Homo sapiens: one gene and its partner. The protein of the gene in region 2 purifies or fractionates together with the protein of the main gene of each other region. This does not show direct contact. Each region holds a gene or a part of one and is shown on either strand. Other genes may lie near its edges.

Evidence for each region.
Region 1: the proteins of FAM153A (region 2) and DHX32 purify together in Homo sapiens (affinity purification with mass spectrometry; one large-scale study listed by BioGRID and IntAct). This does not show direct contact.

The regions. Positions count from the first base shown.
Region 1 is NC_000010.11:125,839,793-125,843,613, forward strand, and holds part of DHX32 (putative pre-mRNA-splicing factor ATP-dependent RNA helicase DHX32), read right to left. Parts: intron 3,011-3,821; exon of another isoform or gene 2,143-3,010; coding exon 1,951-2,142; exon of another isoform or gene 1,568-1,950; coding exon of another isoform or gene 1,463-1,567; intron 1,205-1,462; coding exon 1,055-1,204; intron 1-1,054. Other genes in the region: BCCIP (BRCA2 and CDKN1A-interacting protein), read left to right, coding at 1,463-1,538.
Region 2 is NC_000005.10:177,734,272-177,738,092, forward strand, and holds part of FAM153A (protein FAM153A), read right to left. Parts: intron 2,842-3,821; coding exon 2,771-2,841; intron 2,339-2,770; coding exon 2,308-2,338; intron 663-2,307; coding exon 592-662; intron 134-591; coding exon 109-133; intron 1-108.

The DNA of each region.
Region 1 (3,821 bases), on a different chromosome or scaffold from region 2:
TACTTAAGATGGACCTGGGAATGTACATGGCCATGGCACCATGGACAGAAGACCCTCATTTACCCTGTCCTGTCCACTCATGCTGCTCGGAGCAACCACAGCATGTACTTAGTGTCACCCATTCAGCATGCCCTCAAAAGGTGCCACCAGATTCCTGTGTACCTGCTGGCTCCACTGACAACTTTTTCTTCTCAGCTTTGAAACACTAACTCCCTGTTCTTTATACAATTCTGTCTTTCAAATTGCTGTCATATTTTTCACACTACTTCACATATTTTCACACCATCTTTCAGAACAAAGGAGGTAAAAGATGCTTCATGGAAAATGTCAGGGAGGGACCTTACTGGCTGCCCTTTATGGGTGGCTCTAGCCTCTGCTATGCTGCTTTGCCCTGTTTGCCCCCTCCTCTTGTTTCTGTCTGCATAGCAGCTTCCAGTTGACTTCTGAGTACCTTCCTGTGACAGGTAAGCTACCCACTGCCCTTCAGGCATACAAAGGACTTTGTGGCTTTGCTTTGACATGCGCCATTCTCTTCTCTGGACACCCTCTGCTCTCCTCTATCAAGCTCCGTCAGCAACTCTGCAGCCTCCCCTCAGCACCCCAGCCTACCTATTCTGCACTAGTATCTGGAGCTCTGCAGCCTCTCTGCATGCACGTGGTGAATGTGCCAGGATACGGAAGGTGCACAGCACAACTCTGACAGTGGGCACGTAGAGGTGGCTGTTCTTGTCTTCCTCCAAAGACCCATGTACGAGTCTGTGTCCCCCGTCACCATGCCCCAAGCAAGCTTGCTCTGAAGGCTGGCTGAGTGGAGTCCTGGAGCTCTGGAAGTACAGGCCCGCCATGGTGGCACACCAGAGCTCCGTGGGAGCAGGGGGACTGAGCATCTCCCACTCTGCAGATGCCTGTGGGTGCGTTTAGGGCCTCAAGTGCCATTGCATTCAAGTGGCCAGTAGGGCTGGCGAAGAATGTTTGATGAATAACTAATAAGGACTCAGACTTATCTAGGGAAAGGAAGGTGGAATTAATAGGTAGTTTCTGAGCATTCACTTACACTCACTGCTAGAATTCAGAGTTGTGTCTTGGTAAGCCTTGTAAATGCTGATGAGGGTAAAGTGATCTCCTTCGGGATGTAAAAATGTCTTCCAACAAGTCAAGGCAGCCTCTTCAGCTCCATGTGGCACATGTGAAAAGCAATTTGGAGCTTCAAAATGAAAAAGGTCACATGGTTAGCAATAATGAAGACATTTTATCTTAGCCTAACATGCAGAGGGGAGGGGTCACGACTGTTAGTGGCATGGCTCCTGTCTTGGTACTCTGAATAAATATGTTATTCTTGTTTACTTAGAAATCCCAGAAATTTAGAGTGAGTCATCCTAATTCTCCCTCTCCTTTTGTGTGTGTGTGTTTGCTTTTCTAAGGTCAACTGAATATGGTTAATATCCTGCTTCTATTCCGGCAGGAGCAGGGAAAACCTGAGGTGCTTGGAGGTCCAGACACAAGAAGAGGATTGGAACCAGTTCCGATACAGCACAATGGTTGGTCTGTTCCCCCAGTATTAGAATAAATTAAAACATACAAGCCAGGATGAATGAAGCCAATAGGAAATAAAAAACAGGCACACAACATTATTTGGGGAAAAACACCTCTAGTGACACATTTTCTTCATCTGCACTGATTATTTCAGCAAAAGAAATCTAGTATGTTTTCATACATCTGATGTATAAATTTGCTGAACTTTGAGTTAGTTTTCTTAAGATAATTTTTCATATTAAGAAAATTTTCCTTTTCTAACCTATTAAAATACCTCACTATCATTTCAAAAGGTTAAATGAGTTGATCACTATCTCTGCTCTGTGCTCCTCAAAATATAATTTCAAATGGATCCGATCTAAATCTATACCTAGTGCAGATTTGCAAAAAAAGAAAAGGAATAGTCATTAAGGATACCTGTTACCATGGCTGCGATTGTTAGCACTTCATCTACACAGTCAAATTCACAGGACGCTAAGATAGACTTCGAGAGTTGTGGATCAAGAGGAAACTCTGACATGATGATTCCAAATTCAGAAAGATTTCCATCATTATCCAGTGCTGCCAGATAATCTAAGTCTTCCAATGCCTGCATCAAACTTTCTGGTGCTAGGAAAGGAAAAAAATAATAATTTAAGAGTCTCATATGGCTAAGATGGAGAAACAGGTACTGGACTTTTCCCTCCTGCATGAAACAAGCAAACAATGGACAAAATATGTGAAACAACGGTTTGCAAGCCACCAAATACCAGGGAGTGAAGGATAGTGATTCTTGAGAGGGCAAACTCAGGAGGGGAGCCCTGTGATTGTCCAGCTCATGCTCCGAGGAGGGTCCCAGCTGCAGTGTGCATGCGGGGGGAACCCAGGTGGAGCCTGCCAGCCTCCCTGCAGTAGGAAAACAATGCCAGGGATCCAGGGAGACTAAGGTGGCCGGAACTCGCGGTCACAGTACTGGAGAGAGACACACAGATCTAAGTCGGGGGCCAGAGGGAGCTCCCTCAACTAGGCAGCACAGCCCTACTGATCAGCGCATGTGTGTAAGGAACCACCTCAGGCCAGAGAAAGAGCCATGTGAGAAGATTAGAAGGAACAGTGGTGCTGACACAGGACCTAGGGTAGGGCCTGTTCCCACCACCCTAGCTGGAAAACCTCATGATTTATGGGGCACTGGGTAGAAAACACAAGTGAGAAACCCTAGATGGGCACTGCCACCTGACACAGCTATACAGCAGGACCTGAAAGGATCACACTGCATCCTAGGACAAAGCTCAAAAGTACCTCTGGGACTACAAAAATATTCAGTGCCCAAGAAGGTAAAATGTACAATGTCTAGCATCCAGTAGAGAGGCATGAAAAGCAGGAAAATACATTGCATAATACAGAGAAAAATTAATCACAACTGACCTGGATCTCAGATGCTAGAAATAGTAGACAAAGATGTTATTTCCCAGTGCAAATAAAGAAATAAAGATAGCAAGCTGATTCTCTCCATCTCTTTATTTCTTTTAAGTTTATGTAACATCGATAATGATGTGGTATTATATATGCTCAGTCTTTACCAAAGTTTTTAAAAATCCATTTATTTAAAGAAATATATTCTCTTTGTGGAATAAGGCTATATATAGATTGGTGCAAAAGTAATTGCGGTTTTTGCCATTACTTTCAATGGCAAAAACCACAATTATTTTTGCACCAACCTAATATTTATTAAATAAATACATGTGTTTTGTCCACCCTTCTGGTTCCTGGTATAGCAATACAGGTCACACAATGAAGCAAATCCCATAATAGAAAGCTGCTGTATTGTTATACCCCAAAACTGCAGGATTTATGAGCCACTAGGTTGGTTTTGTTTTAGTTCCAGTAAGTGCAAGGTGGGCAGGGGCTGAAGACTCTGGGGCCCTAAGAAGCGCTTGAACCTGTCTGCTCCTGGGAGTTCAAAGTAACATATGGTAAAAATTTTCTTATGTGCTGTCTAAACTTTGATCATTAAGCTCTATGTCTAAATTTCAGGCAAACTGAGTAGCTCAAAAACCTCACTTTGGGAGGCCGAGGCGGGAGGATCACCAGGTCAGGAGATTGAGACCATCCTGGCTAACACGGTGAAACCCCGTCTCAACTAAAAAAATACAAAAAATTAGCCGGGCGTGGTGGCAGGCGCCTGTGGTCCCAGCTACTCGGGAGGTTGAGGCAGGAGAATGGCGTGAACCCAGGAAGTGGAGCTTGTAGTGAGCCGAGATGGCACCACTGCACTCCAGCCTGGGCGACAGAGCGAGACTCCGTCTCAA
Region 2 (3,821 bases):
ATGAAGCTCAGCTCAGGCTGCCTGTCTACAGGAAAGCCTGTGAGACAGGGCCACATTCCTCAACATCTGGATTACTCATCAGTATGAGAGGGGTTCCCCAATACGTACCACGTTGTGGAACTCCCAAGGATGTCTGTAACGACAGAAAATAAATTGCTATGAGCATCAGACCATGCTGTGTCCTGTGAGCACAGGACTTTTCTTCACTTAGTGACATTAGAAAACAAGATGGAAAACCCAGTGTTCAAAGGAACCCCAAAGAAGCGAACAAATCAACTCATACTAAAGACACACATTTTTCTCAGAGGATGTTTCCTCTGAAGTCCATGTTGGCTGGCAAGTAGCTGATTTTGCTCCAAAGAGAACAAAATTGGTAAGGCTCACTGTTACACAACAGGTGACTGATGCTGTCATTTTCTCCCACTGTCTTAAATCAAGCCTCAGTGGGGACAGACTCTCACTTACCATTTCCCTCAAGGACACTGTGTAACTAAGATATATATCTTCAGATTCTCATATCTTAATTTAATCCAAATAAGATAAAGCTAAGAAAGCAACAGTTTTTTCTCAGACAAATCCAGTTGGCCTGACCTTCACCTCCTCTGGGTCCTCCTCCTCACCGTTGTAACTGGACAGCTCCTGAAGTACATCCCTGATCAGAACTAGGAGGATACAAAGTGACCATCAGCACCTTGGTGGTGGTGCTCATGAACAATTCAGTAACACTGCTTGAGGTGGGTTTGGGAGGAGGGTAGCAGGCACAGGAGAGATGCAGGAAGAAAGGGAATCAGGGCCTTTGGCTTCCTAGCTCCAGGCCACCTCATAAACATATAATAGCCAATCTCAAACAGTGCACACCACGCAGTGCAGGCTGTGTGTCCCTGGCAGCCTCTTAGGGCTCCTCCTTCCTAATCTGACCTGAGCTAACTTGCCCTCTTATTGATCCCTGACAAAGTCATTTCCTCCTCAGAATCCACATGTGCTGCTGATCTGTTTATCATCCCTTCTAGAAGATTTTGTACGGAATAAGAAGCAACCTTTCTTAAAATAGGAGATTTAATTCTAGCCAAAAGATTTTATTACTAACTTTCTGGTACAAGGCAAATAAACCAAGATTTGAAAATAATTTTCCTACCATTTAAAGATGACCCCTACTTAGCATGTGGTATTTGTTCTTCCACTTTCCCTTTTCAACAGAATTTGTGTGTAGCATGATGTTCACTGCTCCCCATGCTCACACTGACTCCAGCACTGGAGCAGCCTGTCATGGGGAGCAGCGAGGGGGTGCGGGGGGTGGGCACTGACCCTCTCCAATCCAGCTGTGCAGGAGATTCCAGCAGGGAAAATGGGTGCCCGGCTAACACCCAAGTTGAGCCTTGACTTTTTTTTATTGGATTCTATGTCTTGGGATTGGGTTCCACTGAACTTCTAAGACTTGCCGTGATTATCTCATCAAATACAATAGAGTATGGCACTGATTATCGTCTGCTTTTGAACAGGAGCTGAGGAATGACCTCAACGCTGTAGACCAAAAGCCTGAGGACTCTGTGTGTTTTACATTAATGATCACACTAAAGCCCACTGTGCAATGTACCTACTCAAACAAACCCTGGGTTAGATGACCATTGACACCATCTGATAATGATAGTGTTTGGGATCTGAATAGGTTTTCATTCTCCCACATGCACACAGAAGTGCTGGAATAACTTGGCCTAGCAAGAAATTATACCAGGGCTTTGTGACAAATTCAGTGTACTAGCTCATGGCATTAACCTTCCACTCATCCCTGAGTTCACATGTGCCTCTTCCATTTAAAAGACCAAGAGCTTGGGAAATTCAACTCTGCAGCATGTCCATCTGAGGACTGCGGATATTAAACTTATCTTCAGGTACAGCTGTGGTGGAGGATGAATGGGTTGATTTATGCAAACTGTGCAGTGGTGATGGAATTTTTCTTGAACATTGATCCTCATGTTGTGCTTTGCAGATGGGAGTGTGTTTTCTGGGGAAATGCACACACACTCCCAAAGACATCCACAATCATTCCATACAGACTGTCTCCTCTGTCCCTCCCATCCCTGATGTACCACCCCACCTTAGATGACACTGCTGCTTCCAGGGATGACAGTAGCATGGTTAGAGTGGTTTACTGGATCTTAGCATTCTTTTAAACCAAACTTCCCAAATCTCATTTCTGGCAGACAGCTCAAACCAGAGTGGCTCTTGAACAAAGGCAGGCAAAACAGTGCCATCTTTGCAACTCTAATATTTTGAACCTAAACAAAGAGATGATCCCAGAATACGTACATTCGGCCAGTGTGTCTGGGTCCCCCTCCATCTAGAGAAAAACAAAACACTATGAGGATCAGACCAGGCTGTGTCCTGTGTGCACAGGTCTTCTCTTCACTTGTTTATGTTAAAAAAACAGATGGTAAATAGTACTTGAGACAATGGCCCCGATATCTAGAAGACATTCGTGGAAAGGCACAAGATTTTTGTGCAAGATTTTCATTGTTTTTGTTTGACAATTCCAAATTTTTCTCAAGAAGACATTTCTCTTAAGGTAAATGCCTGCTGACACACAGTTTGTAAATGTGGATGCCATCTGAAACCACTCTTTAGTTGATAATGAACGCTGACATTTGCCCACCAAGAAATTCTGTCAGTCACCTATAGTGTACATGGTGAGATGTATACATCTTAATTCAATTGAAACAGAGAAACCGAGAGAAATAAAATTTCCTTTTCAGAGGAAAGAAGACGACTTTACCGTGTGAACTTCTGTGGCTTCCTCAGAGACTGTCTGCCCTGGCCCATGCTCCTCCAGGTCTTCCAGGTCACCTAGGAAACAGAGTCGCTATAAGCACATGAGCTCCACTGAGTGAATCCCTCAGGTGGTCTTGGAGCTGTGGACACGGGGCTGGCGTGTGTGGAAAGGTGTGTTCACAGCACAGACTCAGCTGCTGCCAGTCCATCCTCCATGGTGGAGGGAAGGCAAATGGTGAAGGAAGGCATCAGGAAGGCCTCAGAAGACAGAGCCTTGGGTCCTCTAGCTAAGGCAACCTCTTTGAGATGAAGTAACCCATCTCAAACAGGGCACACCACACAGTGTTTCCCTGGAGCATCGACAGCTTCTCCTTCCTAATCTGACCTGAGCTAACTTGCCCTCCCTTCTTGATCCCCTAGAGGTCATTTCCTCCCCAGGATCCACATGTCCTGCTGCTGTGTATTTTGTCCCTCCTAGATTTATTATTATTATTATTTTTGAGATGGAGTTACTCTCTTCTTGCCCCAGCTGGAGTATAATTGTGCAATCTCAACCCACCACCACCTCTGCCTCCCAGGTTCAAGTGATTCTCCAGCCTCAGCCTCCTGAGTAGCTGGGATTATAGGCATGCATCACCATGCCCAGTTAATTCTGTATTTTTAGGAGAGATGGGTTTTCTCCATGTTGGTCAGCCTGGTTTCGAACGCCTGACCTCAGGTGATCCACCCGTCTTGGCCCCCCAAACTGCTGGAATTACAGGTGTGAGCCACCACGCCTGACCAGAATATTCTGTACTAGAAACAAAGCAACCTTTCTTCAATGAGGAGATTAATTCTATTAAAATATTCTATGTATTCACTAACCTTTTGTTTTAAAGAAGACTAAACCAAGATTTGAAAATACTCAATTATCCTACCATTTAAAGATGACTGCTACTTGGCCCGTGATGTTTGTCCTTCTGCCCTTCCTTTTAACACAGTGTGTGTGTGCCACGGGACCTGCTGCTGCTCATGCTCACACTGGCTCCAGCATTAGGACAGCCCATCACGGGGGC